Linked DNA regions of Homo sapiens. The protein of the gene in region 2 purifies or fractionates together with the protein of the main gene of each other region. This does not show direct contact. Each region holds a gene or a part of one and is shown on either strand. Other genes may lie near its edges.

Region 1 (3,652 bases), on a different chromosome or scaffold from region 2:
TTCATTTGAAGCCAGGAGATTTCAGTTTCATCTGTCGGAACTCTCCTGACATTATAATTTTTTTTTTTTTTTTTGGGGGAGAAGTCTCGCTGTGTCTCCCATGCTGGAGTGCAGTGGTGTGATCTCGGCTCACTGCAACCTCCACCTCTCGGGTTCAAGCGATTCTCCTGCCTCAGCCTCCTAAGTAGCTGGGATTACAGACGTCTGCCACCACGCCCGGTTAATTTTTGTATTTGTTAGTAGAGCCGGGATTTTGCCATGTTGACCAGGTTTTGTAATGGAATTTAGTGGGAAAAGAGGGCAATCATTATTACATAAGCTTATAAAATATATTGTTTTCTAGGCTATATAAAGCAGTAAAGTCTAGGAATAACAATTTAAATGATTATATTTGAATTATAAGAAGTAAACAATTTATGATATTTAAAAAGTGACATTTTCCCTAAATTTGAACCGACCATCTCCTCTCTTTTTCATTTAAAAAACTTTTTTTTTTTTTTTTTTTAGGTGAAAGACCAAAGAAACCAATCCCTCTTCAGGATCAGACTGTCAGAGATGAAAAAGGAAGGTATAAACGATTCCACGGGGCCTTTAGTGGAGGTTTCTCTGCTGGATACTTCAATACTGTTGGCTCAAAAGAAGGTATCATTTTCCTAATTGTAGCTATTATACCATTAAAGCAAATGATCAAAATATTGATTCTCCCTCACCCTTGCTTTTTTTTTTTTTAATTTTGAGACAAGAGTCTCGCTCTGTCGCCCAGGCTGGAGTGCTGTTGTGTGATCTTGGCTTACTGCAACCTCCGCCTCCTGGATTAAGCGATTCTCCTGCCTCAGCCTTCCAATTAGCTGGGATAACAGGCGCATGCCACTATGCCTGGCTAATTTAAAAAAAAATACTTTTAGTAGAGACAGGAGTTTCACCATGTTGGCCAGGCTGGTCTCAAAGTCTTGACCTTGAGTGATCTGCCCACCTTGGCCTCCAAAAGTGCTGGGATTGCAGGTGTGAGCCACTGCACCCGGCCACCTTTGCTTTTTTTTTTTTTTTTGCGATGGAGTCTTGCACTGTTGCCCAGGCTGGAGGGCAGTGGTGTGATCTTGGCTCACTGCAACCTCCGCCTCCCGGGTTCAAGCGATTCTCCTGCCTCAGCCTCCCAAGTAGGTGGAATTACAGGCGCCTGCCACCATGCCCAGCTAATTTTTTTTGTGTTTATAGAGACAGGGTTTCACTATGTTGGCCAGTGTGGTCTCTAACTCCTGGCCTCAAGTGATCCGCCTGTCTTGGCCTCCCAAAGTGCTGGGATTACAGGTGTGAGCCACTGCGCTCAGCTTTCTCTGAACATACACTGTAACCTCTTGTGTTCTTTGGATATTTGGATGTTTCCAGAGTCAACTTGTATCTTGTTCATTGATTGCAACCTTATGGTTAAAGAGTTTTCTTTCACTTTGTAAAAAAATGCATACCTCCTAATCAGATGATTAAATGATAATAATGACTTTGGTTTTTATTGTGTCTTGCCATTCACGAAATACTCTTAAACAGAGTCTTTCAGTTAATCATTGACTGTCTCTCGTGACTGAGTGAGTGAGGAGGGCAGGTGTCACAGGGATCTTGCAGATGATGCCACCAAGGGTCAGAGAGGTTAAGGAGCCAGCATGGCGTTAGTGCTGAGGGAAGAGTCACCAGGTGCCCTCTTCAGACACTGGGGACCACAGCAAGACTGGCTCCTCAGTGCTCTCTACCTGGGGAAAAGTCAGTTAAATCTTTTATGTTATGTACTTTTATAAATGCCAAGTTGTTTAAAGTATTGTATGTTTTAAGATATATTAATCTAGAAGCATTTTTTTGAACTGGAAGAAATGGCTTTCTATATCTCAGTTATGAATGGAAGATGAACTGATTTTATTATATGTGCTGCCATAGTGAGCACGGAAGATGAACTGATTAATTCACATAGCAATTATCAAGAAAAAGATGGGCTAGATCTTTTATAATTTTTTTTTTTTTTTCCTGAGATGTAGTCTCACTCTGTCGCCCAGGCTGGAGTGCAATGGCATGACCTCGGCTCACTTCAACCTCCGCCTCCTGGGTTCAAGCAATTCTCCTGCCTCAGCCTCCCGAGTAGCTAGGACTACAGGTGCCCGCCACCACACCCGGCTGATTTTTGTATTTTAGTAGAGATGGGGTTTCACCATGTTGTTCAGGCTGGTCTCGAACTCCTGACCTCAAGTGTTCCACCCGCCTCAGCTTCCCCAAGTGCTGGGATTACAGGCGTGAGCCACCATGCCCGGCCTTACCATTTTATTTAATTAATTGATTTATTTTTTGAGACAGGGTCTCACTCTGTCGCCCAGGCTTTAGTGCAGTGGTGCACCTACTGAGAGTAGACCTTCCCCAGATGCCTCAGCTCACAGGGCCCTTGGAGAGAATCAGGAAGGAGGTGCAACCCTCTTAGAGAAAACTAAACAACTTTATGTGCAGAGGTTACAGACATATGTGACCTCCAGAGCATTCCCTGTTTGTGGACGTGGCACATGCTCGGTAACCGTGGTCAGGGAACAAGGCCATTGGTTACAGGATTCCAGTGTCTGTTGAAACTGGGGGACTGGCAGAGCCGCTGCCCTTGGACCTGCCAGGTTGAGTCTTTGGTCAGGGTACTGTGAATGTTGCCTGGATTCCTTCTGTTACTCTCTCTTTATCCACTCTGACTGATTAAAACACCTTGACATCATATCTTTACACTTGATCTTAGCCAAAAGGCCTAGAAGCGATGACATCATTTCTTTAGATATGTTAATATGCCAGTGGAGGTTGCTGGTCTCACGTCCTGCATTTTAAGGTGACCTTGCATCTGTCAGCTCAGATCTGCTTGTGTTCATTTCACAGTTTAACTTTCAATGTGTAATTCTATATCTCTTGGTTTCACTTTCTTATGGGGAAACCTTAATGTATCCACTAAGTTTTACATCAGGGGATACAGGGATTAATAAGAAATTTATGTGGAATAATTACGTCTATATAAGCACTGAGATGGGAAGTAGCTAAGAGTTTATAGTTATTGGGAATTTCAAGTCCATACATGTTATTTAATCATTTACTCATAGACCCAAATACTCTCTAGGATTGTAAAGTTCTAAACTCTTTTTTTTTCAGGATGGACACCCTCTACCTTTGTGTCTTCACGACAGAACAGAGCAGACAAATCTGTTCTTGGTCCTGAAGATTTTATGGATGAAGAGGTGCGTGTGCAAAACTTTAATTGCCAATTAGCTGGTGGGACAGGTCTAGTTGGTTGCTGTAACTGCCTTCTCTCTCCCCAGAAGGTCCAATGTACGATTTCCTCTTTGTTTGTAAGGCTTTATCTTTTAGGTATTTGATGTGCAGTGTCCTGTACATCAGTAGAGTCTTGTTCATTGGAGGAGCATTTTATACTGGGGCCAATTTCTAAAATCAAGAGTGTAAGGGGAAAGTCATATACAGGCAATTTACTTGAAAAGCCTCGTGGCTGGGTGCGGTGGCTCACGCCTGTAATCCCAGCACTTTGGGAGGCCGAGACAGGCGGATCACGAGGTCAGGAGATCAAGACCATCCTGGCTAACACGGTGAAACCCCGTCTCTACTAAACAAAATACAAAAAATTAGCCGGGTGTGG
Region 2 (3,652 bases):
AGTAATTGCAGGTGTGGTAGAACAAGCAAAAGAACTAGAATTAGAAGTAGAGCCTGAAAATGTGACTAAGTTGTTGCAGTCTCATAAAAATTGAACAGATGAGTTGCTTCTTATTGATGAGCAAAAAAAGTGGTTTATTGAGATGGAATCTACTTCTGGTGAAGATGCTGTGAACATTGTTGAAATGTCAATAAAGGATTTAGAATAAACTTACTTGGTAAAGCAGCAGCAGGTTTAAGAGGACTGATTCCAATTTTGAAAGGAGTTCAGCTGTGGGTAAAATGCTATGAAACAGCATTGCAGCATCACAAAAGAGAAATCTTTTGTGAAAGGAAGACTCAATGCAGCAAACTTCATCGTCTTATTTTTAAAAATTGCCACAGCCACCCCGCCTTTCAGCAACCACCACCCTCATCAGTCAACATCCATCAGCATCAAGGGCAGACCCTTCACTGGCAAAAAGATTAGGACTCACTGAAGGCTCAGATGATTTTTAATGTTTTTAGCAATAAAGTATTTTTAAATTAAGGTAGGTACATCTTCCAGACTCCTGTTAATGTTGATATTTTGCCTCCTCCCATGAATCGTGTACTTAATGGGATCTAGATTTTTTTAGACATAATGATATTGCATACTTAATACTAACTGTAGTTAGTGTATAGTGTGAACATAACTTTTATGTGAACTGGGAAACCAGAAAATTTGTGTGACAATTTATTTTGATACTTGCTTTGTTGTGGTGGTCTGGAACCAAATCTGCGGTATCTTCAAGGTATGCCAGTAGAATGAGTATGTGCTAACCCCATGCACTGTCGCAGGCTCTGAAAGGACGAAGAGATGGATCTCCAAAATGCCATGTTCTTTAACACTTCCTGCCCTATTTTCACAAGTTACCATCTCTCCGAAACCCTTCAAAGCTCTCCAAACAGTTACTCTTTCTGTTTTTCTCTTTACCTTATCCATATCTTATCTATAACATTCATTTTATATTGCAACTACTTGCTTTCCTGTTTATCTTCACCACTAGATTGAACTCTTTAAGTTAGTATCTTAATCCTTCCGTATTTTCCCAGCACCTAGCACAGTGCCTGGCACGAAGTAGTGGGTAACAGTTGTATTTGTTGGTGACTGTGCTGTTATCAGGTTAGACTTCGTGGAGGAGGGATATTTAGATAGACTCTCGAGCATGGTTAGGTCAGCAGGTAGAGATGAAGAGAATGGCATGGGTAAAGGTGTAGAGATTTGAGAGTCATGGACTGTATGTAGAAGTGTTAGAGGGGCTAGTGGAGGTGAGGCCATGTGGACTATTTAGTAAGCAACAGGGAGCCATTTTTTTCTTAGAGGTAACACAGGGAATGACTGATCCCCATGACTAAAAATAGGGATGATGACAAAGAGGGTAAGGTTTGAGAAAAGGGACATAGATTGAGCGATGAGGAGAAGATGAGACCCAGCTTTACCTTGCTTGAGGTCCTGGTGATGACCCTGTATGCACAGTTGACAGCTTGAAGGTTACAGCTTGGAATGCTATCTTAAGAGAACTTCGGGAATCCTTTCCAAGTAATATCAGTGATTTTCGCTTATTTATGTACTCAAGGGAATTTCCCTTAGAGAAGTACGCCATGTTTCAGTGTGAGAACCACTTCATTTTTAATCAGTTTGGCAATATACAGTATTCCCCCATTATGTTCCAAGACCCCCAGTGGATAATACTGAATTCTATATATACTATGTTTTTTCCCATACATATATACCTATGATGAAGTTTACTATATAAATTAGGAATATCAGCAGATTAGTAACTAATAATAGAACAATCATAACAATATACTCTAGTAAAAGTTGTGTGAATTTGCTTGTTTGCTTGCTGTCTCTAAATATTTTATTGTACTGTACTCACCCTTCTTTCATACTACAGTTGACCACAGGTAACTGAAATTGTGGAACATGAAATTGAGGATAAGGAGGGGACTACTGCAGTCAGGATTTTAGTCATCTATTAACAAAAAGAAATGAGTTTCATGGGAAATCATTCCATAATTAAGCTAAATCATCCTATTCACTTTTATTTTTTTTGAGGCGGAGTCTTTCTCTGTTGCTTAGGCTGAAATGCAGTGACTCGATCTCAGCTCACTGCAACCTCCACCTTTTGGGTTCAAGCAATTCTCCTGCCTCAGCCACCCAAGTAGGTGGGATTACAGGTGCCCACCACCACACCGAGGTAATTTCTGTATTTTTAGTAGAGACGGGGGGTTTCACCATGTTTGCCAGGCTAGTCTTGAACTGCTGACCTCAAGTGATCTGCCTGCCTAGGCCTCCCAGAGTGCTGGGATTACAGGCATGAGCCACTGCGCCTGGCCCTATTCACTTTCTTGAGAGTTAATTCAGAAATGTCTCTGAACAGTCATCAGTGGCTACTGCCACTGTCCTTAGACTATTTCTCTTGTTTTCCAGGCAGTCACATTTAAAAAGAAAAAAAGAGAAGAGAGTCAGAATTAATTATTCTCAATTTAACAAACAAAAGGAATGATTTTATTTCACTTTCCCATATTTTTGGCTAAAAATACTTACTACCTATTTGTGGTCATTTATTGGAGACTTTCAGAGAAAAATTGGCAGAAACTGATGAATAATCAGTGAACTAACATAGATACCATTAAAGAGAATGTACTTGTGCAGTGATAGAGCAGACTTGAGAACTTGAGTTATAGTTAAAATGGCACAAGCAACTTGCCAGGGCTTCATGTAGTTCATCATTTTCCATTCTGTTGGTCATTCATGAGTAGATCAACAAATATTTCTGGAAGTCCCTGCTGTTTTCCAGGCTTTGTGCCTCTCCAGAAGGCACTTGCCCAGTGGAAACCAGCAGAAAAACATTGGTACCACAGTGCAATACATGCTACCTATGAGCTATGCACAGTGTAAGAAACAAGAGAAGGTGAGATTTAGGTAAGCACTTCTAGAGGCTCTAAATCTGGAAGGCAGCTTGAGTAGGAGTTGCTCAGGGGCTGTGGGGCTTAATAAGCCGTAGGAATTTGTTCAGAGACAGGGGAAGCAAAGGAGCTAATATATTTATAAATCTCCAAGTACTCAAACCTTGCCATGCCAGAGTCTAGATGCCATGAGAGAGTGGTACAGGATAAAGCTGTGGTTATGGGCTGAGGCTAATTCTTGCAGGGCTTTGTCGCCTTGTTTGGGAGACCAGGAAGTCTCTATGAGAAGTGGAGTAATGAGTGATTGTGTTTGAATAACATATGAAAACATATTTTGGTATGCATACCTTTCAACCCAACAGTTCCACCTCTAGTGAACTGTTAACATTAAAAGTTCTTGCATACAAGTTCCCAAAAGTGAGCAAAAATGGGTGCATGAGGTTTTTTCATAGTAGAAAAAAATCTGGAAACGAGCAAAATTTGTATTTACAAGATGCTGGTCAAATAAATCTTGAGGTGACCATATATGTAATTAAATGCAAGGCAGTGATTTTTTAAAAATCAGATAATTCTATATCTTAAAGTACTGTACAAAGATATTTTTTGAGTTAAGTTGTGGGAGTGGGGCTCTTACGGTGTCTCACATTTCAAAAATCTGAATCAACTGGCAAAATATTACCATCTGTTACACATATACAGGGAGTACATGGTTTCTGTTA

What was found. Proteins that work in one complex are often made in the same cells at the same time.
Region 1: the proteins of KIAA1143 (region 2) and GPATCH1 purify together in Homo sapiens (affinity purification with mass spectrometry; 2 studies listed by BioGRID and IntAct, with this or other methods). This does not show direct contact.

Annotation. Positions count from the first base shown.
Region 1 is NC_000019.10:33,087,627-33,091,278, forward strand, and holds part of GPATCH1 (G patch domain-containing protein 1), read left to right. Parts: intron 1-507; coding exon 508-642; intron 643-3,153; coding exon 3,154-3,239; intron 3,240-3,652.
Region 2 is NC_000003.12:44,754,987-44,758,638, reverse strand, and holds part of KIAA1143 (uncharacterized protein KIAA1143), read left to right. Parts: intron 1-3,652.